7 linked regions of the Homo sapiens genome follow. The protein of the gene in region 5 purifies or fractionates together with the protein of the main gene of each other region. This does not show direct contact. Each region holds a gene or a part of one and is shown on either strand. Other genes may lie near its edges. The genes, in order: SUCLA2, AZU1, IPO11, FLVCR1, AGFG1, GPN1 and TBC1D15.

Evidence for each region.
Region 1: the proteins of AGFG1 (region 5) and SUCLA2 fractionate together in Homo sapiens (co-fractionation; one large-scale study listed by BioGRID). This does not show direct contact.
Region 2: the proteins of AGFG1 (region 5) and AZU1 purify together in Homo sapiens (co-immunoprecipitation; one large-scale study listed by IntAct). This does not show direct contact.
Region 3: the proteins of AGFG1 (region 5) and IPO11 fractionate together in Homo sapiens (co-fractionation; one large-scale study listed by BioGRID). This does not show direct contact.
Region 4: the proteins of AGFG1 (region 5) and FLVCR1 fractionate together in Homo sapiens (co-fractionation; one large-scale study listed by BioGRID). This does not show direct contact.
Region 6: the proteins of AGFG1 (region 5) and GPN1 fractionate together in Homo sapiens (co-fractionation; one large-scale study listed by BioGRID). This does not show direct contact.
Region 7: the proteins of AGFG1 (region 5) and TBC1D15 purify together in Homo sapiens (co-immunoprecipitation; one large-scale study listed by IntAct). This does not show direct contact.

What each region holds. Positions count from the first base shown.
Region 1 is NC_000013.11:47,942,274-47,945,773, forward strand, and holds the end of SUCLA2 (succinate--CoA ligase [ADP-forming] subunit beta, mitochondrial precursor), read right to left. Parts: intron 1,173-3,500; coding exon 1,098-1,172; 3' UTR 383-1,097; downstream 1-382. UniProt on the Homo sapiens protein: ATP-specific succinyl-CoA synthetase functions in the citric acid cycle (TCA), coupling the hydrolysis of succinyl-CoA to the synthesis of ATP and thus represents the only step of substrate-level phosphorylation in the TCA.
Region 2 is NC_000019.10:826,541-830,636, forward strand, and holds the start of AZU1 (azurocidin preproprotein), read left to right. Parts: upstream 1-1,296; 5' UTR 1,297-1,306; coding exon 1,307-1,364; intron 1,365-1,689; coding exon 1,690-1,846; intron 1,847-3,021; coding exon 3,022-3,166; intron 3,167-4,096. UniProt on the Homo sapiens protein: This is a neutrophil granule-derived antibacterial and monocyte- and fibroblast-specific chemotactic glycoprotein. Binds heparin.
Region 3 is NC_000005.10:62,419,263-62,422,762, forward strand, and holds part of IPO11 (importin-11), read left to right. Parts: intron 1-3,500. UniProt on the Homo sapiens protein: Functions in nuclear protein import as nuclear transport receptor. Serves as receptor for nuclear localization signals (NLS) in cargo substrates.
Region 4 is NC_000001.11:212,882,275-212,885,774, reverse strand, and holds part of FLVCR1 (choline/ethanolamine transporter FLVCR1), read right to left. Parts: intron 2,405-3,500; coding exon 2,337-2,404; intron 483-2,336; coding exon 379-482; intron 1-378.
Region 5 is NC_000002.12:227,520,656-227,524,155, reverse strand, and holds part of AGFG1 (arf-GAP domain and FG repeat-containing protein 1), read right to left. Parts: intron 394-3,500; coding exon 231-393; intron 1-230. UniProt on the Homo sapiens protein: Required for vesicle docking or fusion during acrosome biogenesis. May play a role in RNA trafficking or localization.
Region 6 is NC_000002.12:27,635,550-27,639,049, forward strand, and holds part of GPN1 (GPN-loop GTPase 1), read left to right. Parts: intron 1-2,660; coding exon 2,661-2,706; intron 2,707-3,335; coding exon 3,336-3,482; intron 3,483-3,500. UniProt on the Homo sapiens protein: Small GTPase required for proper nuclear import of RNA polymerase II (RNAPII). May act at an RNAP assembly step prior to nuclear import.
Region 7 is NC_000012.12:71,842,759-71,846,258, forward strand, and holds part of TBC1D15 (TBC1 domain family member 15), read left to right. Parts: intron 1-3,500. UniProt on the Homo sapiens protein: Acts as a GTPase activating protein for RAB7A. Does not act on RAB4, RAB5 or RAB6.

The sequences.
Region 1 (3,500 bases), on a different chromosome or scaffold from region 5:
GATTGCTTGAGCTCAGGAGTAAGAGACCAGCCTAAGCAACATAGTGATACCCTGTCCCTACCAAAAAAAAAACAAAAATCAAAAACAAAAAAAAACACATATGTTTTTTTGTGGTGTGTGCCTGTAGTCCCTGCTACTTAGGAGGCTCAGGTGGGAGGACTGCTTGAGCCCAGGAGGCAGAGGTTGCAGTGAGCATGATCATACCACTGCACTCCAGCTTGGGTGACAGAGTGAGACCCTGACTCAAAAAAAAAAACAAATCACTGTCATGGCAAGTATATGATCTAAGAATTGGTGCTTAGACCTCTATACTGCAATAACGAACAAATCAACTTCTACTGTGTTTACCTCAAAACAAGCAAACAAAAGCCATGAACCCAAATCATATTGGGAGATTTTTATTAACTTAAATTGACATTCTTAATTTTGTCTGTAAGTCCTTGGTATATATGCCTTTATTTGAAGCAAACCTACAGGTGTTTCTTAATATGACAGAATCATGAAGACTTGCAGTTAATCAGTGTTTCCTAATGATTAAAACAATGTTCAAATAATTACAAAGTTACTTCATCAAAATACTTAGAAGAATATTCTGAGGAGTGTTTGAAAGCTCTGTTTATAAATAGTGATTGATACATTTATCATGTATTTGGTGCTGAAGATAAACACTTTTTACATAAAACATTGTTTTAATATACTGCTCTACTAATGAGGCTAGTTATTAGATATACTGTATTTTAACACTAAAGAATAAAGCTTTATCTTCGTATTTATCTTATTTATAGGACTCTTATCAATGAAGAACTTTGTATCCAACAATAATAAACTGGCAAATTGCAAGTTACGTTTTGTAGGAGAAGCAAAAAAGACTGGCTGCGACAAAAGAAAGAAGATAACTGCATTATACATGCTTCGTACAAACAGTCCATTCTGAATGGTACAATTAAATGCAGTCCAAATCCTTTTAAATGTTTGTGTGCCTAGATGGCAATTACAATCTCCACACACTAAAAAGAAAAAGAACAATAACACAGAACACAGTATTCTTAATGATTATAGCACATTTAACACCTTCAGCCATCCACTGGGTTTTCAGATCATATTGGCAACTGAAATTTCACATCCACATGTGCTTGCTTCGCTAAGGTCACTATTTCAGAGAGCTTTACAACCTAAAAGAAAAGAACGAAGAATTTTCACAAAAAGGTAAATTCAGAACTACAGGTCAGTGCAAAATTAATGTACACTCAATTTTTTCCATTTAAAACATCTGGACTATTCTGACATTGCTATAAATCACATTACGTTCTTATAAGCAAATGACATTCTCAAAGGATAATCAAGTCTGACACTCCTCATAGTCCAAACTTCAATTAAATACTTTCTGATTAAGATGTTATACCACCTGCTAGGATTACACATATGTATTACATAAGATTATATATGTGTGTATAAAATGTGTGTGTATGTATGTGTGTGTGTGTGTGTGTGTGTATATATATATATATTATTCTAAATTTTATCTTAAAGACAGAAACAGTGAGTGTCTTTGTTGGATACTCCACAACTCAAAGCACATCTAAGTAAAAATTTGTTTTGAAATAAGTATACAATCTTAACTTAAAATGTTGGGATAGAAATTTGGGTCTACTAGTTAGTATTTTACTTTTTGTCAGTAAGTTAACAATTGCTAACCTGAGTTCCAATTCTCTCTACAATCTGTCTAAAAATATCCACCAGTTACCATACAAAACATCATACAAATTTAGACATGTCTAAGACCAAAAAAACAAACTCAGCTTCTCTCTTCCTCAGTAAATTAGTTAAGAAAAGGCTTTGAAGTTAGATATCTTTGGCTGCAAATCCCCCCTCTGATGCTTATGACATACAACCTTGAATAAGTTAACTTATCTAGCCTGTTTCTTCATCTATAAAAATGGAAATTTTATCACCAAATTCATATTAAATGAGATAATCCTTGAAGAAAACAGCTTAGCATTGCATGCACAGTAAACACTCAATAAACAGTAGTAACTGCTAATATCATCATCATCTCATTCAATATTATTATTGTTATGACTTCTATAATCTCCCAGTCAATAAAAACACTGTAGTCATAATTTAAATCAACTGTTCACTTTTACCTCTCATGATCTATTTGATCAAGGTCCTACTGGTTCTTCTCCTTCTTTTCATGTCCTCCAAGCTTTTCTTAATTTAAGTTTTCATTCCAAAAAAGTGCACTTTCAGAGACAAGTTATAACCTATTTATTACCTTCACCTTTTCTCATATCTAAGTATTGCACTAGATGGACTCCTACTATCTCTCCCCTTTTCCCTTCAATATATCCCACATCTCAAAGTCAAAATAGGCTTTCTGAAATACTTTCTCCTACTATTCCCTTGCTCAAATTCTTTATTTTTAATTCAGGTTTAAGTTTAAATTCTTCTGTCTCCAAGCTAGAGTTAAATTTTGTTTACTAGTAAGTACTTTCCCAAAGAAGGACATAAGACTTTTATTATTTTTGTGAAATGACATCACATTAACTCGGTAAATTCAAGAGTCTGGCCAAGCCTGGGGGCTCATGCTTGTAATCCCAGCACTTTGGAAGGCCGAGGTGGGAGGATCATATGAGGTCTGGAGTTCGAGACCAGCCTGGTCAACATGGCAAAACCCTATCTCTACTAAAAATACAAGGCTGGGCGCAGTGGCTCACACCTGAATCCCAGCACTTTGGGAGGCCGAGGCAGGTGGATCACAAAGTCAGGGGTTCAAGACCAGCCTGACCAACATGGTGAAACCGCATCTCTACTAAAAATACATAATTAGCCAGGCATGGTGGTACATGCCTGTAATCCCAGCTGCTTGGGAGGCTGAGGCAGGAGGATTGCTTGAACCTGGGAGATGGAGGTTGCAGTGAGCCGAGATCACACCACTGCACTCCAGCCTGGGCAACAAGACCAAAACTCTGTCTTAAAAAAAAAAAAAAAAAAAAAAAATTAGCTGGGCGTGGTGGCACACACCTGTAGTCTCAGCTACTCAGAAGGCTGAGACACAAGAATTGCTTAAACCCAGGAGGCAAAGGTTACAGTGAGCTGAGATCACGCCACTGTACTCCAGCCTAGGTGACAGAGCAAGACTCAGTCTCAAAAAAAAAAAAAAAAAAAAAATCAAGAATCTACTATTGATTAAGCTATAGAGCCCAAAGAGTGTTCGAGTGTTCAATGAAATGTCTATAAACATAATGGAAGGGAAGACAAAAAATTCTCATCTCTCTGTATCTACTATGAAGTGTTCTCTGATACACATTATTGTTAAGTAAAAGAAACAAAGTATAGATTACCATTAATCTAAAGTGGGAAAAGGGAGACACACACACACACACACACACACACACACACACACACACACAAAGTCCCCCCCTTATCCAATTTCACTTTCTACAGTTTCAGTTACCTGCAGTCAACTGTGGTCCAAAAATTTTAAATGAGAAATTCCA
Region 2 (4,096 bases), on a different chromosome or scaffold from region 5:
GTTCTGGACATTTCGTCTATTTATTTTTATATAGTTTTTAATTTGTTTTTATTTATTTTTTTTGAGACGGAGTCTCTCTGTGTCACCCAGGCTGGAGTGCAGTGGCGCAATCTCGGCTCACTGCAACCTCCACCTCCCAGGTTCAAGCGATTATCCTGTCTCAGCTTCCCAAGTAGCTGGGACTATAGGCGCCCGCCACCACGCCCAGCTAATTTCTTTTTTTTTTTTGAAATGGAGTTTTGCTCTTGTCGCCCAGGCTGGAGTGCAATGGTGCGATCTCGGCTCGCTGCAACCTCCGCCTCCCAGGTTCAAGTGATTCTCCTGCCTCAGCCTCCTGAGTAGCTGGGATTACAGGCATGTGCCACCACGCCCAGTTAATTTTGTATTTTTAGTAGAGATGGGGTTTCTCCATGTTGGTCAGGCTGGTCTTGAACGCCCAACCTCAGGTGATCTGCCTGCCTCGGCCTCCCAGAGTGCTAGGATTACAGGTGTGAGCCACCGCACCCAGCTTGTCAATTATATCTCAATAAAGCTGTTGAAAAAGTTTAAAAAAATCACCCAATCGGGCACAGTGTTTCACACCTGTAATCCCAGCATTTTGGGAGGCCGAGGTGGGTGGATCACCTGAGGTCGGGAGTTTGAGACCAGCCTGGCCAATATAGTGAAACCCCATCTCTACTAAAAATACAAAAAATTAGCCAGGCGTGGTGGTGGACAACTGTAATCCTAGCTACTCAGGAGGCTGAGACAGGAGAATCACTTGAGCCTGGGAGGCGGAGGTTGCAGTGAGTCGAGATCACACCATTGCACTCCAGCCTGGGCAACAAGAGCGAAACTCCGTCTCAAAATAATAATAATAATAATAATAATAATAATCACCCATACAGACGCGCAGGACTCAACGCAGGACTGCCAGCTCCACTGCCCTGAGCCCCCCGGTGCCAGGCCCAGCGGGCAGTGCTGGAGCCCCAGTGGCTTGGGATGGGGAGACTGGGACTCTGAGCTGGCAATGTTCCTGGGTGCTGGCTGCATGCCCGCCATGTGCTGGGCTCCGGGATCCACTGGTTCCTGACACCCTCACCTGCCCCTGGGGGTGTGGCCATCTTCTAGAGAGGGAAACTGAGGATCAGTGCAGAATGTAGGGGGAGCCCAGGCTGGCCCAGGGAGCAGTTGGCGGTGGAGGCCTTGGGCAATTTCCCGTGTTCCCACTGAGTGGGGCTGTCCCTGGGCCTGGGCGGGGACGCCACCAACTGCCAAGGCCTGTGTATAAGGGCAGCCGCCGCCTTAGCCACAGACCTGCCCCGCCATGACCCGGCTGACAGTCCTGGCCCTGCTGGCTGGTCTGCTGGCGTCCTCGAGGGCCGGTGAGTGCCTCTCTGTGCCGGTGGTCCCCCATCTGTGCTAGGGCCCGGCTGCCAGGGCAGAACTCAGACTTAAAGCACAGAGAAGGCAAGCGGCTTGGCCTGGGTCACACAGCCAGCCCGGCCTGGACGATCCCGCGAAAGGCGTGAGGGCGGACGGTGTGCGGGACTCAGGGGCCCCCTGTCCTCTTAGGGAGTGGGACGATGGGGGAGGGTGGGTCCCCCCGCAGCCCCACTGGGTGGATAGAGCTGAGGCTGCAGCTTCACACGCCCTCCCGGCCACTGTGTGGATTCTTGGGGATCTCAGAGCTGTCTCCCCCCGACCCAGGCTCCAGCCCCCTTTTGGACATCGTTGGCGGCCGGAAGGCGAGGCCCCGCCAGTTCCCGTTCCTGGCCTCCATTCAGAATCAAGGCAGGCACTTCTGCGGGGGTGCCCTGATCCATGCCCGCTTCGTGATGACCGCGGCCAGCTGCTTCCAAAGCCAGTGAGGGGTCCTGGGGAGGGGGCCTAGGGGGCATTGGGGCTCAGAGAAGGGGCTTGGGGGGCTTAGGCATTCAGTGGGGGTGCTTGGTAGGTGAGGAGGGGAGGGGATTGCAAAAGGAGGGGCTCAGGGAAAGGAGGGGGCTTGGAGAGGGAAATGGGGACTGAGTTGAGGAGGGACCCAAGGATATTGGGGGGCTCAGATGGAGGAGGCCCAGAGAAGGGAAGGGGGTCAGATGGAGGAGGCCCAGAGAAAGGAAGAGGCTCAGATGGAGGAGGTGCAGTGAAGGAAAGGGGGTCAGATGGGGGAGGCCCAGAGAAGGGAAGGGGCTCAGATGGAGGAGGGGGCCCAGAGAAAGGAAGGGGCTCAGATGGAGGAGGTGCAGAGAAGGGAAGGGGGTCAGATGGGGGAGGCCCAGAGAAGGGAAGGGGCTCAGATGGAGGAGGTGCAGAGAAGGGAAGGGGCTCAGATGGAGGAGGTGCAGAGAAGAGAAGGGCCTCAGATGGAGGAGGTGCAGAGAAGGGAAGGGCCTCAGATGGAGGAGGTGCGGAGAAGGGAAGGGGGTCAGATGGAGGAGGTGCAGAGAAGGGAAGGGGGTCAGATGGGGGAGGCCCAGGGAAGGGAAGGGGCTCAGATGGAGGAGGGGCAGAGAAGGGAAGGGGGTCAGATGGGGGAGGCCCAGGGAAGGGAAGGGGCTCAGATGGGGGAGGCGCAGAGAAGGGAAGGGGGTCAGATGGAGGAGGTGCAGAGAAGGGAAGGGGGTCAGATGGGGGAGGCCCAGATAAGGGAATGGGGTCAGATGGGGGAGGTGCAGAGAAGGGAAGGGGGTCAGATGGGGGAGGCCCAGATAAGGGAAGGGGCTCAGATGGAGGAGGTGCAGAGAAGGGGAGGGGGTCAGATGGAGGAGGCTCAGAGAAGGGAAGGGACTCAGATGGAGGAGGGGGCGCAGAGAAGAGAAGGGGCTCAGATGGAGGAGGAGGCGCAGAGAAGGGAAGGGGCTCAAGATGGGAAGGGGGCCCTGGAAAGTCTCGGCTCTGCTTCTGTAAAAGCGGGGGAGTTTTCAGGGTGAAGGATTGCAGTCTGCAGGCTGGGATCCCCCCTAATTTGCAAGCCGGCTTGCTCTGTGCCCAGGCCCCAGCCTGGTGTCCTCCCTCTGCCCTTTCCTCCGCTACTCTCAGGAACCCCGGGGTTAGCACCGTGGTGCTGGGTGCCTATGACCTGAGGCGGCGGGAGAGGCAGTCCCGCCAGACGTTTTCCATCAGCAGCATGAGCGAGAATGGCTACGACCCCCAGCAGAACCTGAACGACCTGATGCTGCTTCAGGTGAGAGGATGGTGCCACCTGTGATCCCAGCACCTCGGGAGGCCGACGTTAGCCAGGGAAACAAGTCCAAACTTGGTCTCTACAAAAAAATACAAAAATTAGCCGGGAGTGGTGGCGCGCACCTGTGGCCCCTGTGCTTCAGGAGGCCGAGGCGGAAGGACGGCTTGAGGTCAGGAGTTCGAGACCAGCCTGGGCAACATGGCCAAACTCAGTCTCTACAAAAATATATATGTGTGTGTGTGTGTGTGTGTGTGTGTGTGTGTGTGTGTATCTTGCCGGGTGAGGTGGCTCATGCCTGTAATCCCAGCATTTTGGGAGGCCGAGGTGGGCGGATCACGAGGTCAGGAGATTGAGACCAGCCTGGCCAACATGGTGAAACCCCATCTCTACTAAAAATACAAAAATTAGCCAGGCATGGCAGCGGGCGCCTCTAGTCCCAGCTACTCAGGAGGCTGAGGCAGGAGAATCGCTTGAACCCGGGAGGCGGAGCTTGCAGTGAGCCGAGATCGCGCCCCTGCACTCCAGCCTGGGTAACAGAGCCAGACCCTATCTCAAAAAAAACTTCCAAAAACAATACAGCAACACATACAGATGTACCACGGTTCGCGTATGGAGCCTCCTGTTGGTGGAGACTGACGTCGTTTTCAAATGCTTTTGCTATGACAGAATCATGTGAATGTTTTTCATGTTTGGTTTTTTTCTTTGAGAAAATGATAAAATTATCTCAAAAATATCATTAAAAAATTTAAAAAAGTAGAGACGGGGGTTTCACCTTGTTGGCCAGTTTGGTCTCGAACTCCTGGCCTCAAGTGATCCACCCACCTTGGCCTCGCAACGTGCTGGGAATACAGGCGTGAGCCACCGCACCCGGCCCCTGCCGGGAATTAAACGCAAACCACTTACAGACTACAGTTAATGTCGCTGACACTT
Region 3 (3,500 bases), on a different chromosome or scaffold from region 5:
GAATCAGTGAGTGAGTGGTGAGTGAAAGTGAAGGCCTAGGGCATTATTGTACACTTAGGCTAAAATAAATTTATTAAGAAATTTTTTTCTTCAATAATCTTAGCTTATTGTAACTTTTAGTTTATAAACTTTTTGTCTCTGTTGCAGTAACACTTAGCTTAAAACACAAATACATTGTGTAGTTCTACGTTGTTTAAAACAGACGCAAACACACACATTAACTCAGGTACACACAAGGTCAGGATCATCAATATCTCTGTCTTCCACCTCCACATCTTGTCTCACTGGAAGGTCTTCGGGGGCAATAACATTCATGGAGCTGTCATCTTCTATGATAGCAATGACTTCTTCTGAATTATCTCCTGAAGGACCTGTCTGAGGCTGTTTTACAGTTAACTTTTTTTTTTAATAGGAGTAGTACATTGTAAAATTATGATAAGAAGTATAGTAGTGGGGCTTGGTGGCTCACTTCTGTAATCCCAGGGTTTAGGGAAGCTGAGGTGGGAGGATTGCTTGAGGTCTGGGGTTTGAAATCAGCCAGGGCAACATAGCCAGACCCCATCTCTACAAAAAGTAAAAAAATTAGCATGGCATGATGGCTCATCCCTGTAGTCCCAAGTCTCAACTATTCAGGAGGCTGAGGTGGAATGACTGCTTGAGCCCAAGAGTTCAACGTTGTAGTGAATTATGATGCCGGCATTGCTCTCTACCTCAGGTGACAGAGATCGTAACTCTTAAAAAAAGTAGGCTGGGCGTGGTGGCTCACGCCTGTAATCTTAGCACTTCGGGAGGCCAAGGCGGGTGGATCACGGGGTCAGGAGATTGAGACCAGCCTGGCCAACATGGTGATACCCTGTTTCTACTAAAAAAATACAAAAATTAGCCAGGCGTGGTGGCACACACCTGTAATCCCAGCTACTTGGGAGGCTGAGGCAGGAGAATTGCTTGAACCCGGGCGATGGAGGTTTCAGTGAGCCAAGATCGTACCACTGCACTCCAGCCTGGGCAACAAGAGTGAAGCTCCGTCTCAAAAAAAAAAAAAAAAAAAGTATAATGTAGTAAATGCATAAACCAGTAACATAGTTGCTTATTATCACTTTCAAGTGTTATGTACTGTACCTAATTGTATGTGCTCTGCTTTTATACAAATGGCAGTGCAGTAGGTTAGTTTACACCAGCATCACCACTAACGTGTGAGTAATGTGATTTACTACGACTTAGGATGGCTATGATGTCACTATGTGATAGGAATTTTAAAGCTCCATTAAAATCTTACGGGATCACTGTCGTATATATGTGGTCCATATCTGACTGAAACTTTTTTTTTTTTTTTTTGAGACAGGGTCTCACTCTGTCACCCAGGCTGGAGTGCAGTGGCACGATCGTGGCTCACTGCAGCCTTGACCTCCTGGGCTCAGGTGATTCTCCCATCTCAGCCTCCTGAGTAGCTGGGACTACAGGTGTGCCCCACCATGCCCAGCTAACTTTTTGTTTTTTTAGTAGTGATGGGGTTTCTCCATGTTGCCCAGGCTGGTCTTGAACTCCTGCACTCTAAGTGATCCACCCGCCTCAGCCTTCCAAAGTGTTGGATTACAGGCGTGAGCCGCCATTTTTATGTGGTGTGTGACCCTCTGTGTGTCCTGGTCATAGAATACACAAAATATATACTCAATTTCATTAGAGACAGCTAGATAGCTCTCCAAAGTTGTATTAATAGATATTCCCAGTAGCAGTGTTTAAGAGTTTCTGTTTCCATGCATTCTTGCCAGCATTGAATATTTTTGGACTTTGTAATTTTTGCTAGTCTGATCATAAAGTAGTTTTTCACTGTTTGGATTTTAAATCCCTGATAACCAGTGAGATAGCATCTCTTCTGATATTAATTAAACATTTAGCTCTTCTTTTCTATATATTTTCTGCTTACACCCTTTGTTCACTTTTCTTATATATTTGTCTTGTTGATTCACAAGGGTTCCTTGTATATTCTGTATAATACACCTTTGTTTTAGTTATGTATTAATAACATTTCTTCTCTTAATCTTCACCTTGTTAACCTTGTGTAGGGTATCTTCAATGACTCCATCAATTTCAGTCTTCAGTTCTGATGTAGTATAATTCATTAGGCAGATAGGCTGTGAACTTGATGTATTTTTGTTCTTTCTCAAGTCTAAAGCTAAAAATTCCCAGTTAATTTCACTTGAGATATTAATGGACAGCACTGAACAAAAGTAAAAGTGTTTAATCTTTCGGGAGTACTGGGTGGGGACAGGAGACTTACATTTAAAGTTCTAGAAATGTCACTAATGAGCCTGTGACCTTAGAGAAGTCAGTTTATCTCCTTATCTTTTGGCCACAGTGTCTTGGTCAGTAAAACAAAATACTTAAACTGTGTAGAGAACTGATATGGGTGGCTCCAAGGTGATAGGAAAATTATATTTATTTACTTGTTAACTTATATGGACTCACAACTGAGAGAAAAATTATTTTAATGATAAAATGTAGAATAGTGATTAACTGTGGGATTATTACTTGGCATACAGCACATGCATGTTTGAACAAATGGGTTTTTATAAATACAATGACAGGCTGAGCTCTTTATAGCAAGAATGAGATTCTTATAAGATACAGCTTTATAGACAGTGATGTCTTCAACCAGTAAATGGAAACTACCAATCGAAGATGTCTATATTTGGAGAGAGGACTGATGATCTCTTACACTCAGCAAAAAGTTTTGCCTAACTGCTAGTTATAAATTATAGTCTGTTAAATTTAATCTAGGCTGTGTTGTTATCTCTATTCAGTGCCTTAATCAAAATCAGTTTTATAGCTTTTCCTTCCTATTTTTTTTCATATCCAAGAAGGAACTTTATTTATTTATTTTTTGAGATGGAATCTTGCTTGTTGCCCAGGCTGGAGTGCAGTGACACCATCTTGGCTCACTGCAACCTCCACCTCCTGGGTTCAAGCAGTTCTCCTGCCTCAGCCTCCCTAGTAGCTGGGATTATAGGTGCCCACCACCATGCTCAGCTAATTTTTGTGTTTTTAGTAGAAATGGGGTTTCACCATGTTGGCCAGGCTGGTCTCAAACTCCTGACCTCAGGTGATCTGCCTGCCTCGGCCTCCAAAAGTGCTGGGATTACAGGTGTGAGCCACTGCCCAGCCAGAGAAGGACCTTTAAAAGCAATAAGCATAACTGCTGTTCCTTAGTGGGTTTTGTACAGACATGTATTTTTGTTTTTCAGCTAAGGAGACACCAGAGGGTGATGGTTGACAGTAGTTGGTACCTCACAGCTGGGCACTGATCAGGTAGGGGGTGTCAATATTGTTTAGGATAATGTATAACTTTTCTTATTAGGGGGAGATTAGTCACGGGGAACTCTTGTATATACCAAACAGGCAAGAGACTTATTGCAGTTTATCAGTGCCATTTTACTAAAAACTCCCGGTGAGACAGAAATACTCAAGTTTTTCGGACAGGTCTTCCTCTCACAGGTCTGCCT
Region 4 (3,500 bases), on a different chromosome or scaffold from region 5:
TCGAGACCATCCTGGCTAACAAGGTGAAACCCCGTCTCTACTAAAAATATAAAAAAATTAGCCGGACATGGTGGCGGGTGCCTGTAGTCCCAGCTACTCGGGAGGCTGAGGCAGGAAAATGGCGTGAAGCCGGGAGACAGAGGTTGCAGTGAGCCGAGATTGCGCCACTGCACTCTAGCCTGGGCGACAGAACGAGACTCCGTCTCAAAAAAAAAAAAAAAAAAGAAACACTTGTTAAGTGAAGAGAACCTACTAGTGTTTAGAATCCGTATCTTTAAGTAATAACATGTTTTAAATTTCTTGAAATAAAAAGCAAATTGTCCTTTAAAATCAAAATACCTTTGGTTATACACCATACATGTATTTACTTTCACTTACTTGTATGTTTTAGTATAATCCAGCCATAAGCCACAAAGAATAGAGCCCACCATTCCAGCTACTACTAGCGTTAGCCCAATCCTTCCAGCATTGACTTCTTCTCCCTGAAAAAAATTTGCGTAAGAAGTTGATCAAATAAATGGATTAACTAATTCAGACTCTTCACATTCCCACACCTTTTCATAGTCAATGAAAATAATTAGATAAAACTAAGCACACAGTAGGAAGATTTAGTACATGTGTCAGTGTGGGAGGGGAGGGCAGGTAAAGAATATATAAAAGCATTATATTTTAAAACCAGAAAAAAAGCCTAAAATAATAGAAGAAATAAAAAAGGTAAATTTTCCTTAATCCTCTATGGTTAGAAGTACAATGATTTTTGTTAGGATTCTTAAGTATAGATAGTCATGTGCTCCATAATTACATTTAGGTCAACTCTGAATCATATATACAGTATGATCCTGTAAGATTATAATACTGTATTTTTATTCTACCTTCTCTGTTTAGATATATTTAGATACACAATACTTACCATTGTATTACAACTGCCTACAACATTCAGTAGCATAACATGTTATACAGGTTTGTAGCCTAGGAGCAATAGGCTATACCACGTAGCCTAGGTATGTAGCAGGCTCTACCATCAGGTTTGCGTAAGTACACTCTATGATATTCACACAACAATGAAATTGCCTAGCGAATTTCTCAGAAGGTATTCCTGTCACTAAGCAAGGTATGACACTGTATAGATATCTGAAAAGGAGGTTAATCGATAGCTTTTACATAGTACAACTGCTTTATCCTTTCAAAAGCAGATACGTCAATCAAAACTTGATATTTATTTATCTATATTTATGCTGAGTTCCCTTAAAATGTTTTGTCTTTTTCCATATAACCAATCATATTATTTCCTAAAAATAAACTTAGGTATTGTCACAGGGATAGTAACTTCTGCTTTCCATATTGTGTGTGTGTGTATTTTGTTTTGTTTCGTTTTTTTGAGATGGAGTCTCACTCTGTCACTAGGCTGGAGTACAGTGGCGCTATCTTGGCTGGGATTACAGGTGTGAGCCACGGCGCCCAGCCTGTTTTTTTTTTAAATGGGGATTCACTCTTATTGCCCAGGATGGAATACAATGGCACGATCTCGGCTCACCGCCACCTCCACCTCCCAGGCTCAAGTGTTTCTCCTGCCTCAGCCTCCCGAATAGCTGGAATTACAGGCATGCGCCACCATGCCCAGCTAATTTTGTATTTTTGGTAGAGACAGGGTTTCTCCATGTCGGTCAGGCTGGTCTCGACCTCAGGTGATCCACCCGCCTCGGCCTTCCAAAGTGCTGGGATTACAGGCGTGAGCCACTATGCCTGGCCATACTATGTGCTTTATAAACTGGATTAAATATGTTAAATTAAAATGATGGGAGGCCATTGTTTTGGAGTGAGCTCCCACAGTAGGCCCAACAGACCAGACCACATAGAATGGTGTCACTAGTGCTAGGTGTCACATAATCAAACTGAACTTTAAAATGGGCCACTTTTCCAAAAAAAAAAAAAAAAGGAGATTCATAGCAACCTATCAGATGGGGCCCAGTCCCCTTTGTTTTACTCCTATAAGGAAAGTAACTTTGTAGCAACCAATCTGCTCTTTGTTCCTTGTTTCTGCTTTCTTCAGCCTTTTTCTGCCTATAAAGCCCATCTCCTCTGCTCAGCTCATCAGTACCTTTCTAAATCTTTAGATGGGATGCTGTCCAATAAACGAATTGATAATAAAAGCCAATTAGATATATAAAGTTGTGGAAATTTCATTTTTTAACAAATATATTCTCAATTAAAACAAATGTAAATATTTGATAGCAACAATGTCATAACCCTTAATCTCATGACCCTGCTAACGACAATTATATTGCTAAAGAAAAATTTTTGGCCAGGCATGCAATCTGATATAAGCAGAAGCTTACCTCATAATATGTCAATATCATTTGATTTAATAACGTTGAGACTGAATAAAAGGCACCAGTCATGATACCTACAATAATAAATAAAGATGATATTAAGTCATGATACCTACAATAATAAAGAGAATACTAAAAGTGTGTCATTTACCAGTTCATGAAGTGACATGGAATATTATGTGACAATTGTGGAAATACATTTCTTAACACAGTTGATAAAGGAAATTAAAAACCATTGTCATTCCCTTTCAGAACCTGGACTAATGAATTTAACACCTAACTGTACTAAAGATGTAATAGCAGAACTCTGTCCTAATACTATTATTATTTAGATTGAGATATACTGACCATAAATCATACCCCCACATGCAACACATATATGGCAACCAGTCAAGCAATGGATTGTTTACTGAATTCCTACAATGTACTACTACAGCCAACAAATGTGCAAAGCCTAACAGAAACTGTGCTTCAGAGATCTTACCTTTTTGTATCAAAGACTTACTGAAAATTCATAAGACAAAATCAGTTAATACTTTTTTTTTTGAGATGGAGCCTTGCTCTGTTGCCCAGGCTGGAGAGTAGTGGTGCAATCTCAGCTCACTACAACCTCCGTCTCCTGGGTTCAAGCAATTCTACTGCCTCGCCTCCCAAAGGATACTTTAGAAGTGAACAATAAAAACAACTGGCTATGAGAAGCACAGGATAGGTTTGAATCCTGATGTCTCCTAGCATGTATTGTATGAATTTAGGTAAGACTCTTAACCTAAATTAAGCTAAAACTTAAGTTTATTATTTATCTATTATTAAATATTTTAAGAATATAAAATAGCATAGAGAATACAACAAATATCCTCATATATCACCCGGATTTGGCAAACATTAACATTTTTCCATCTTTGCTTCAGATTCATTTTTCAGACTTTTCCCAATCCTATTCTTTACCAAAGTCAAGCCCTAGCTTGAGCTTGGTGCTTATCATTTTATATATTACCATATATGCATATTCATAAACAATTAGAAGTATTCTGTAAGTATATAAATATTATTTGTATCCATCTGCAACTTGCTCTTGTTACACTATATTGAGATGGTTTTGAGATGTATCCATGTTGATATTTTTTGTTGTAGTTCATTAGTTTTCTGTTGTACAGTATTCTATTATGTTAA
Region 5 (3,500 bases):
CTTTACAAAGTTGCAGAGAAGTCAAAGAAACTCATATTAGCAATAGCAAAAAGAACAAGTATATATACATTTCAACCACTTAACCAACAATTTCTTAATGTATAACAAACCATTGGAACATAATGCTACTGGCATACAAGATTATGCTGCTGTCTTAAACAATTCTCAAATTCTTGATACTCAAGCCCTCTTTAAGTCGAATTCCCTACAAAGATTCAAAGACTACTCACCTGACTAGGTGTGCCCTTATTTAAGTGCAGTGTTGGTGCAGAATCCCCTAAAAGAGATTTCAGTGGTTTGACCTCAGGTGTGCTGCTTGTGCTACTGGCAGAGGACCCTGAAATAGATGCATGAACTGATGCCACGACTTTGGCTTGTTCTGGCGGGACATACCTAAAACATGTAAAAAACAGTTAACTAAAAAAAAATGTAGGTAATTCTATATCAAAAAATGATAAGCTTAATTCTAACTTTGTACAAGATTGTTTCACCATTAATCTTATCTGAAAACCCTCTCACACAGAATAACTTTGCATATTTTTTAAAAAAGGAACGACAGCTTAAGACTACACCCATTAAATATTTGAAATACTCAGAGAAAAGAGAAGACTAACCACAAAACTTGTTTCAATTACTTATTTATGGTTTTTCTAAGATATTAAGTACAATATAAGAAATAACTGCTTTTTTTAAACAGAGGACCTACAATTAGTCATCACCATGAATAGTTCATACTATAATTTTTAAAATTATCTTAAGATCTAAATAACATTTGAAGAAAGATGAGGTAGGAAAACATTTGTAATATTACAGTTAACAGCCTAAAATATAAAGGCTTATTACATCTGTAAGAATAAGATCATCCCATTTTAAATGAACAAAAGAAGCAATTCACAGAAGACAGGAGACACAAAAATGAAAACACTTTTAACCTGACAAAAATGCAAATTAAGGTTTTATTCACCTATGAGCTAAGTGTGAACTTTACAATTTTTTATTGCTACCTACTAAAATATATAAATAGGTGTGCTTTGTGCACCAGAAGTGCCACTTCCAGAAACATCCTTAAGAATTGGTAAGTGTATACAGATGCATGTACACATGGATGTTAACCACAGTCCTCTCTTTATAATTTCACAAAAACTGGGAAACAAACCCAACATCTATCAAGGAAAAAAAATTTACGATAATACAATACTCATAGCTACTCTGCTTTGACATGGAAAGAGGAAACTTCACAGGTCTTTCAGATTTGATTCCAGTCATATAAACACATGATTTATGTGAGGAGGCGAGTCAAGAAAGGAGAGGTAGCAAGGATATAATAATGTCCAAACATAGGCAATCCTGACCTCTAGGTGTGGGATTATGTGAGAGCTTTTGCTCTTTGTAATTCTGGGTTTTGTCCTACCCTCCTTCTTATTCCCCATATGAAGTAGGTGAGGAAAGAAGGAAAACCATGCTTAAGAGCACCTGTTCCAGAGACAAGAGTTCAAATCCCAGCTCTACCACTAAATGGCTGTGAAACCTTGGGCAAACTATTAATACTTCAACTCTTTGTGCTTCCATTTTTTTCATTTATAAAATGGAGAGGCAGAGTTGCCTAGGTTTAAACAAGTTAACATTTGTAAAGCACTGAGAACAATTCCTGGTATACGTGTTAACTAAGTGTTCACTGTCACTAAACTACATAATAATCACAAACAACTGCTTTCAAGTAAATGGGAGAGATAAAAGATGTATGAGAATGAATACAAGAAGTTATATTTTCCCATAATTTAGCATACTACTAATACAAATTCTTCAGTATAGCCAAGTCTTATCAAAGGATAAAATCAAATGATAGTTATTGGTTCAAAAGACTCACCTGGCAAAGTAATATGCTACCATATTTTTACTATCAACCCACCTTCTAGGATTTTCTTCTTTCCTGAACTTAAATTTTACTGGTGTATTTTAATCTATTTTCATACCTGATGTCTTCTAGTATAACACAGAAAGTGATTTTGAGAACTGGTCAAAAGAACAGTTTCAAAATCCCTTTGGATAACACCATCATCACTGTTTTAAGTATAGTTACAGTGAGTATTTTTAGAGATGCTGCATCTGGATAGTGCTTATTCCATGTTAGAAACCAATTTCACTGCTTGCTAGCTGTATGTTACAGGTGTGCAGCAGTCTGGATTAAAAACATACAGGTCCTGGCCCTCTTAATGATGGTCACCTGTCCCACCACTTGAAGTCTCTATTTGTATAACTCTTATTATCCTGTTTCTCAGGAAAGAAAAAAAATAACATAAACTGTAATTATTTGAGGTTTCTAGGTATTTGCGTTATAGTTTGAATGAATAATACATTACTGTTATAAATGTGGGGGTAAGGATCTATGATTTTAATTCTACCAACTGTTACTCACACTCACTTTTCTGTTGATAGCTAGAGCTGACCATAAACTAATCCCTAACCAAACTCACTTTCTGAATTGGTAAAAGTAACACGGCTGAGAAAACAAAACTAGGTTAGGGCTATGTAAGGAGAACAGTCTTTCCTACAGGGTAGAATGTCTAGGAAATTCAGAACCAAAATGATAAAAGGATAATTATACCTTTCATTTTAAAAGAATCATTTATGCTACCATATTTTTACTACCAACCCACCTTCTAGTATTTTCTTCTTTCCTGAACTTAAATTTTACTGGTGTATTTTAATCTATTTTCATACTTGATGTCTTCTAGTACAGCTGAATATAGCCCTGACTAATCTTGCCTTGCAAAAAGTAGTCTATTTTAGGCCGGGCACAGTGGCTCACAACTGTAATCCCAGCACTTTGGGAGGCTGAGGCAGGTGGATCACCTGAGGTCAGGAGTTCAAGACCAGCCTGGCCAACATGGCGAAACCCTGTCTCTACTAAAAATGCAAAAAATTAGCCAGGCGTGGTGGTGGGTGCCTGTAATCCCAGCTACTTGGGAGGCTGAGGCATGAGAATTGCTTGAACCCAGGAGGCGGGGGTTGCAGTGAGCCGAGATCGCACCATTGCACTCCAGCCTAGGTGACAAAAGCAAAACTCAGTCTCCAAAAAAAAAAGAAAAATGTAGTCTATTTTGGAAAGTAGTAAGAATACAAATTTTGATAGAGCATGCAAGTCAGAGCTAATGTGCTCCTGAATGAAGGTAAAGACCTCTGCTGTAAACCACAACAAATGTTCCCTCAGGACCAAAACAGGCTCTGAACAGATTCTCTTGGGTTGAAACAGAGTTCCTCAAGCAAACAAGAAGCTCGTTACTTCCCCATTATTTATTCCCTCTATTTTGACTCTCTGCCCCATCTTGTTAACCTCCCAAGATGAAAGTATCCACTATGCAATACTATTAAAGAAATAACCAAAAGTTCATAGTTAATGAGTCTTAGTAACTTAAATTGTGCTCATATAGCTAAAAATGAAGAACCCTCAGTAGCTGAACACTAGCTTTATAGATATAGTCCCTATTCCATAGCAAGGG
Region 6 (3,500 bases), about 200 Mb from region 5:
GCTGGGTCTGTCATCCCTACACTTGGGAGGCCAAGGTGGGAGGATCGTTTGAGCTTGGGAGTTTGAAACCAGGCTGGGGAACATAGCAAGACTCTGTCTCTACAAAAAATGTTTTAAAATTAGCCAGCGTGGTGGCACGCCCTTGTAGTCCCAGCTACTTGGGAGGCTGACGTGGGAGGATTGCTTGAGCTCAGGTGGTTGAGGCTGTAGTGAGCCATGATTGTGCCACTGCACTCCGGCTTGGGGCAACAAGAGCCTGGGGCAACGAGAGAGAGAGAGAAGAATAGAGTCCTCTGGCCTAAATGATGCTGGTAGAGTGAAATTGTAACATGAGGAGATACCATGAATAAGAAGATTTATCCATAATTGTAAAATGCACAGGTGGCCAGGCATGGTGGCTCATGCCTATAATCCCAGCACTTGGGGAGGCTGTGGTGGGAGGATCGCCTGAGCCCAGGAGTTTGAGACCAGCCTGGGCACCATGGTGAAACCCCATCTCTACAAAATATACAAAAAATTAGCCAGGGATGGTGGTGTGTGCCTGTAATCCCCGCTACCTGGGAGGCAGAGGTGGAAGGATTGCTTGAGCCTGGGAGGCCAAGGTTGGAGTGAGCTGTGATGATGTCACTGTACTCCAGGCTGGGCAACAGAGTGAGACCCTGTCTCAAAAAAATAAAATGCACTGGTTTGCCCCAAATGTGGCACCATTAGCAGAGGAAGGGCATGCCTCACTAGATTAGTGCATTAAGACTGAGGAGCAAGGCTGACAGTTATTAAAGCTGAGAGAATTTAATTTTGAGGGTACACAAATGCCATCACCAACATTTGTCTTTTCTGATATGACAAGGGATGTCCCTTTTTGGTGGATGCAAGAAATTGTGATCCAAATAGAAATCTGAAGATTGACAGCATTATTTCATTTTCATATTAATTATTTATTTATTTATTTATTTATATTTTTTCGAGACGGAGTCTTGCTCTGTCACCCAGGCTGGAGTACAGTGGCACAATCTCACCGTACTGCAATTTCCGCCTACTGGGTTCAGGTGATTCTCCTGCCTCAGCTTCCTGAGTAGTCACCACACTTGGCTAATTTTGTATTTTTAGTAGAGTCGGGGTTTCACCTTGTTGGCCAGGCTGGTCTCAAACTCCTGACCTCAAGTGATCTGCCCGCCTTGGCCTCCCAAAGTGCTGGGAATACAGGCATGAGCCACTGTGCCTGGCCCATTTTCATATTAATTGTTTAAAAGAAAATTATTTGATTTGCCTGATAGTGTTAATCATTTCTTTTTAAAAAAATTAATTAATTTATTTTTAGAGGTGGGGTCTCGCCATGCTGCCCAGGCTGGTTTTGAACTCGTGGGCTCAGGCAGTCCTCCCAGCGTGGCCTCCCAAAGTGCTCAGATTACAGGCATGAGTCACACCCCCAGCTGGTAATCATTTCATGATGAAACATACAGTTGATCCTTGAACAATTTGGGGGTTAGAGGCGCCAACCCCTGCAGAGACCAGCCGGGGCACCATGGTGAAACCCCATCTCTACAAAATATAAAACTTTGACTCCCCCCAAACTTAATTACTAAAGGCCTACTGTTGATTGGAAACCTTGCTGGTAACATAAACAGTAGATTAACACACATTACATATATATTATATGTATTATATGCTGTATTCATATAATAAAGCTAGAGAAAATAAGGGGAAGATATATTAACTGTTCATTAAGTGAAGTAGATCGTCATAAAACTCTTCATCCTAATCGTCTTCACTTTGAGTAGTCTAAGAGTAGGGGTTGGGTTTTGCTGTCTCTGGGTGGCAGAGGTGGAAGAAAAGGTGCATATGAGTAAACCTTGCAGTTCAAACCTATGTTGTTTAAGGGTCAACTGTGTATCAAAATATCCCTTTGTACACCTTAAATATATATAATTTTTATTTGTCAACTATACCTCAATAAAGGTAGGGGTAGAAACATTTTTAAGATGTTACTTTACAGATTGAAAAAAATTTTAATATTCTTTTCCCAGCCTTATTGAGGTATAATTGACAAATAAAAATTGTATATATTTACATGTTATTTGTAAAGAATAAAGGAGATAATACTTATGAAAGTGCTTATTAGCACAGTGCCTAGACTATACAGATTGAGCATCCCTTATCCAAAAATTTGAAATCTGAAATGCTCCAAAATGTGAGACATTCTAGACACTGACATGACACTCAGAGGAAATGGTTATTGGAGGATTTTGGATTTTCAGATTTGGGATGCTCAACCAATAAGTATTTACAAATATTCCAAAATCTGAAATAAAAAACACTTCTGGTCCCAAGTATTTTAGATAGGAAATTCTCAACCTGTAATAGGTATTCAGTAAATGTTCATTTCCTTCTCTGAAAAATACCAATTTGGTTAAAAAACAAAACAAAAACAAGTTCAATATTAAGGCATTATTACTTCAAACAAGAGTGAGAGTGTGTGTGTTGCTTCTGGGTGGTAGTTGTTTTCCTGTTGGCAGAGACTATATGATGTTATGTAAAAATGGATGACTACTTTTTAGATTCTGAACTCATTTCTGTTCTCTTACTTAGTCCCGACATGCTGACACTGGATGAGCAAGAGCTTATGTGCTTTTACTAATAACTTCTCAATGTTTGGTTTTCAGCATCTTATACAAAACCAAGCTGCCTTTCATTGTGGTCATGAATAAAGTAAGTGTATTCTTCCTGTTGTGATTCACCATTTTTCATCAGAACCTTGTGGTTAGAAGGTTTAGGTGGGTGAGAAAGATTATTTCAGATGCTGGAGACCAGATTCAGGCTTTACTGAAACAAATTCATAGGCACTTCGAGAAAATGAATCAATCAAATTGAATGAGCAATTATTACCAACTCTTGTCTAAAATTATTTTAGGCTAGGTAGAGTAGCACTTCAACCACAGTATGTAGATTATCCCTCAGAGTCAAGATTGTGTAATTACGAGAGGGACAACTAGTCTACTGGAAGTGGCAATTAAAAAATTCTAAACTTCTCTGTTGGTTGATGGCTAGGATGCAAGAGACCTTTTGACTTCAGAGCCTAGAATGTGCTGGTGTCCATTCTGGTCCTGGTACTTGGCAGTGGATAGTGGAGGGTCAACCAAGAGAATACACATCTTCATTTAATTACACTGACTACACAATGATTGTGGTTCTTTGTGGCTTGTTGCAATGGAGGGGAAATAGAAGCAGAGAAAGAAAATATATGGATGATATGTTCTTTGCTGTCAACACTTAATTAAAAGAATAAATTTTGCGTTTGTTGGCTCTGGTTGCTCATAATTGACTTCTCTCTGGTACAGACTGACATCATTGACCACAGCTTTGCAGTGGAATGGATGCAGGATTTTGAGGCTTTCCAAGATGCCTTGAATCAAGAGACTACATACGTCAGTAACCTGACTCGTTCAATGAGCCTGGTGTTAGATGAGTTTTACAGCTCACTCAGGGTAAATTTTCTCTCCTGC
Region 7 (3,500 bases), on a different chromosome or scaffold from region 5:
ACTTGGAGGCTGCAGTGAGCTATGATGGTGCTACTGCACTCCAGCTTGGGTGACAGACCAAGACCCTGTCTCAAAAAAAAAAAAAAAAAAAGAAAAGAAAAAGAAAATGAGGAGGGATTAGAGTGGGAGAAATGGGTCCATTAATAGCTCTTTTGTTTCAGAGTTGTAAAATCCTATTGTAGTACACTTCATTCACTCTAGGTTTTCCTGTTAGTGTATTAGAATTTCTTTCTATTGAAAATTACTGGCCGGGCACGGTGGCTCATGCTTGTAATCATCACTTTGGGAGGCTGAGGTGGGTGGATTACTTGAGGTCGGGAGTTTGAGACCAGCCTGGCCAGCATGGTGAAACTCTGTCTTTACTAAAAATACAAAAGCCGGGCATGGTGGTACACGCCTGTAGTCCCAGGTACTCAGGAGGCTAAGGCAGGAGAATCGCTTGAAACCAGTGCAGTGAGCTGAGATTGTGCCACTTGTTCAGACTGGGCGAAGGGCATACTGTGTTTCAAAAAATGAAAAAGAAAATTACTTGAAACAATAGGGAAATCAGCTGTTTTTTTTTCTTAATTAGAATTTGTGATGTCATTTTTAGTAACAATTTATTTTGTAGCTTAAAATTGGCCCTAACCAATTCTTTTTAAATATGCTCATAGTCCTATAAAATTTTTGTGCTTTAGAAAGATGAATATTCTTAGTATCTAGATTTTCCTGGAGACTTGTTTTCCTAGACTGGATCTTTTAACATGGTAGTTAACTAGGGTATAATAGGAGTATGTCTTATTTTTAAATTTTTCTGGCATTCTTTAGTTCAACAAACGTTTTAGTACCTCCTATGTGCTGAGTTCTTTGGATACAAGGGTGGTTAAACACAGACTTGTATTATTATTATTATTATTGTTAATTTATTTTTGGGACAGTCTTGCTCTGTCACCCAGGCTGGAGTGCAGTGGTGTGATCATGGTTCATTGCAGCGCTGACTGTGTATCTCCTCCAACTCTTAAATTATTCACGTCTCCTATCTGACTTCGCTTGGCACACCAATATCCTTGAGAAGCAATAATAGTTCTGCCAGTTGCTCTTCCTTGAGAGTTGTACCATTCTCTATATCTCAAAACATTCTTCACTTCAGACTATCTGTGATGTATTGCCCTTACAACCACCTGTATTGTGCATTTTTTTTAGTTCCATAGTCATTACTCATTAACACATCCCAAATAAAACTCAGCTTTCTTCTTTCTGTTCTCCCTCTCAGTAAATAACCTCATCTACACAGTTTTGTCCTTGACTGTTCTCCCCTTCACCTCTCACATCTAATCAGTCATGAAGTCTTGTCATTTTGATCTTCTAAATATCTTTCTAAGCCATCTGCCTTTCCTCATCCCCACTACCATTGCCTTAGTTCAAGCAACCATGAGTCTCTCCCTCTCTGGATTACTGCAGCTGTTCGTTCTTGGCCCTGCAGCCACTTTATTGGCTTAGAAAAGGCAAATTTCTAGTTGCGTTTGTCTGTCTTCAGGATAAATTTCAAACTCCTAAATTCTTTAGCATGGCTTATGCAGCCCTTTATGATCTGATCTGGTCTCTGTTTTTGTTTCTAAACTATTTAGACTCTACTCTCTGGTATTTGGGTTTCAATCATGCAGTGAACTACTGCTCTGTATAAAATATATCCTCTGCTAAGAACATATATCCTCTGCTTCCCTATACCCTCTACTAATTAAAATTGCCATTATTTAGATCTCAGTTTATATGTCGCTCTAAGTAAGTTTTCCTGATTCTCACTCTGCCTGAGCCTCCTAAATCTAGGTAAGATAGCATTTATTAGGGCTTGCTGTGGCAGCCTGTTGGTACAATTACATGTTGTAATTGTCTGTTTTCTTGTCATCCCATTAGATTGTAACTGCTGTGGAGGCAGTGACTGAATCTTACTTATTTACACCTAGTAGCTTGCTCTGTACCTGGCACATGGTAGGCGTTTACTGTATATTTATTGAAGAAGTAACTGAAAATGGTACCTCATTCAGGATTCTCTGCATTCCTCTATTACACTCTACTATATACATTGATTTACTGGCTTACATAATACTGCTAGTTTAGTCAGACACTTTTCCTTGTGTGTGTTTTTGCCACTGACACCTTTTATTTCCAGCATGTGGTTGGTGCTCATAAATGTGCTGAATGCATGAGTAAAGAAACTTCTAAATCAGATTAAGTGGAATGGAGAGTAGTTCAAAGAATTTGGGCAGGCTATTGCTTATGTTCTTTTCTGAAGGATTTAGTAGAAGTTATTTGCAGAGAGAAAGGATAAAAGGGTGTTCCAGGTAGATGGAACAGAATACACCTGAAAAAAGGTACAAAGCTTTTGGGTAACAGAGTTCACAATGGCCCAAGGCAGAAATGTTTTATGTGTTGGGGAGTATCAGGAAGTATAGCCTCACTGTAGAGGTAAAGGGTGAAGTCAGAAGATTTTTAAGCCCCTGTGTGGTATAACCAGATGGACATTTTGTAAAGGTTAGTTTGGGCAGTGGTTATACATTATGCACCTTAGGCAGATTATTGGAAGGTGACTAGATCAGAAGAAGAGAGATCAGAATGTTATTTTAGTGACTTAGGCTAGAAATGATAAGGGGCCAGTGTCAGAGGAGAAGGTTCGAGGGACTTAGGTTATAGGGTCTGGATGGTGAAAGAAGCATTTAGAATAAGTGGGTGGATGAGATATCTTTGACAGAATTGGGAATATAGAAGAAGAGCAGGTTTAGATAGAACACATGAGATTAAGATGCCTTATTGAAATGGAGATACCAAGTAGGTGCTTAGATATTTGGGTGTGGAGCCCATTAGGATGCTCAGTCTCGCATTTCCTGGGGATGCTTTCTGGAACCATATGCTCAAATTATCATCTGTATGCCAAATAGTTTTGAAAGAAACTGAACTTTTGTACCTTTTTTGGTTGTTATATTAGCCTGTAAGTTCACATAATTGCTAAAGTTAAGAATGCATGTTGTGTATGATAGGTGATGGGTTTCCAAGTTTGGAGAATGATTTAGGGCAATAATTTTACCCTGAACTTACTGCTACATTTAAAATATTTGGGTTGAATTTTTCCTTTATCTTCCATTTTTGGAAATAAATAAAAATTATAATAATCATAATATAAGTAAAAATTCAGTATTAAGTGTAGGGACAGTATAAAAAATTACTACTGTATTGTGAAACTTCCTTATTTTTTCCAGCTCTTTGTGTCAGGAAGGATGTTCTTGAGTTGGATTGTGCAAAAGTTCATTCTGTCTAAAAGTTGAATTTATCTGTTTTTCTGCCTCATTTTTGCTTTTTAATTAAAACTTTTGCTAAATTAGAGGTGAGAAAATTTATTCTAAAATGTTTGCTGTGGTCACCAGAACTCTTTTAATAAGGTATATCTGACATAGCTCCTTTGCTAGAGGAGAAAAACAAAATACAGTTTCTGTTGCTTTCAGCAGGCCATCATTGGAAGTTTTATA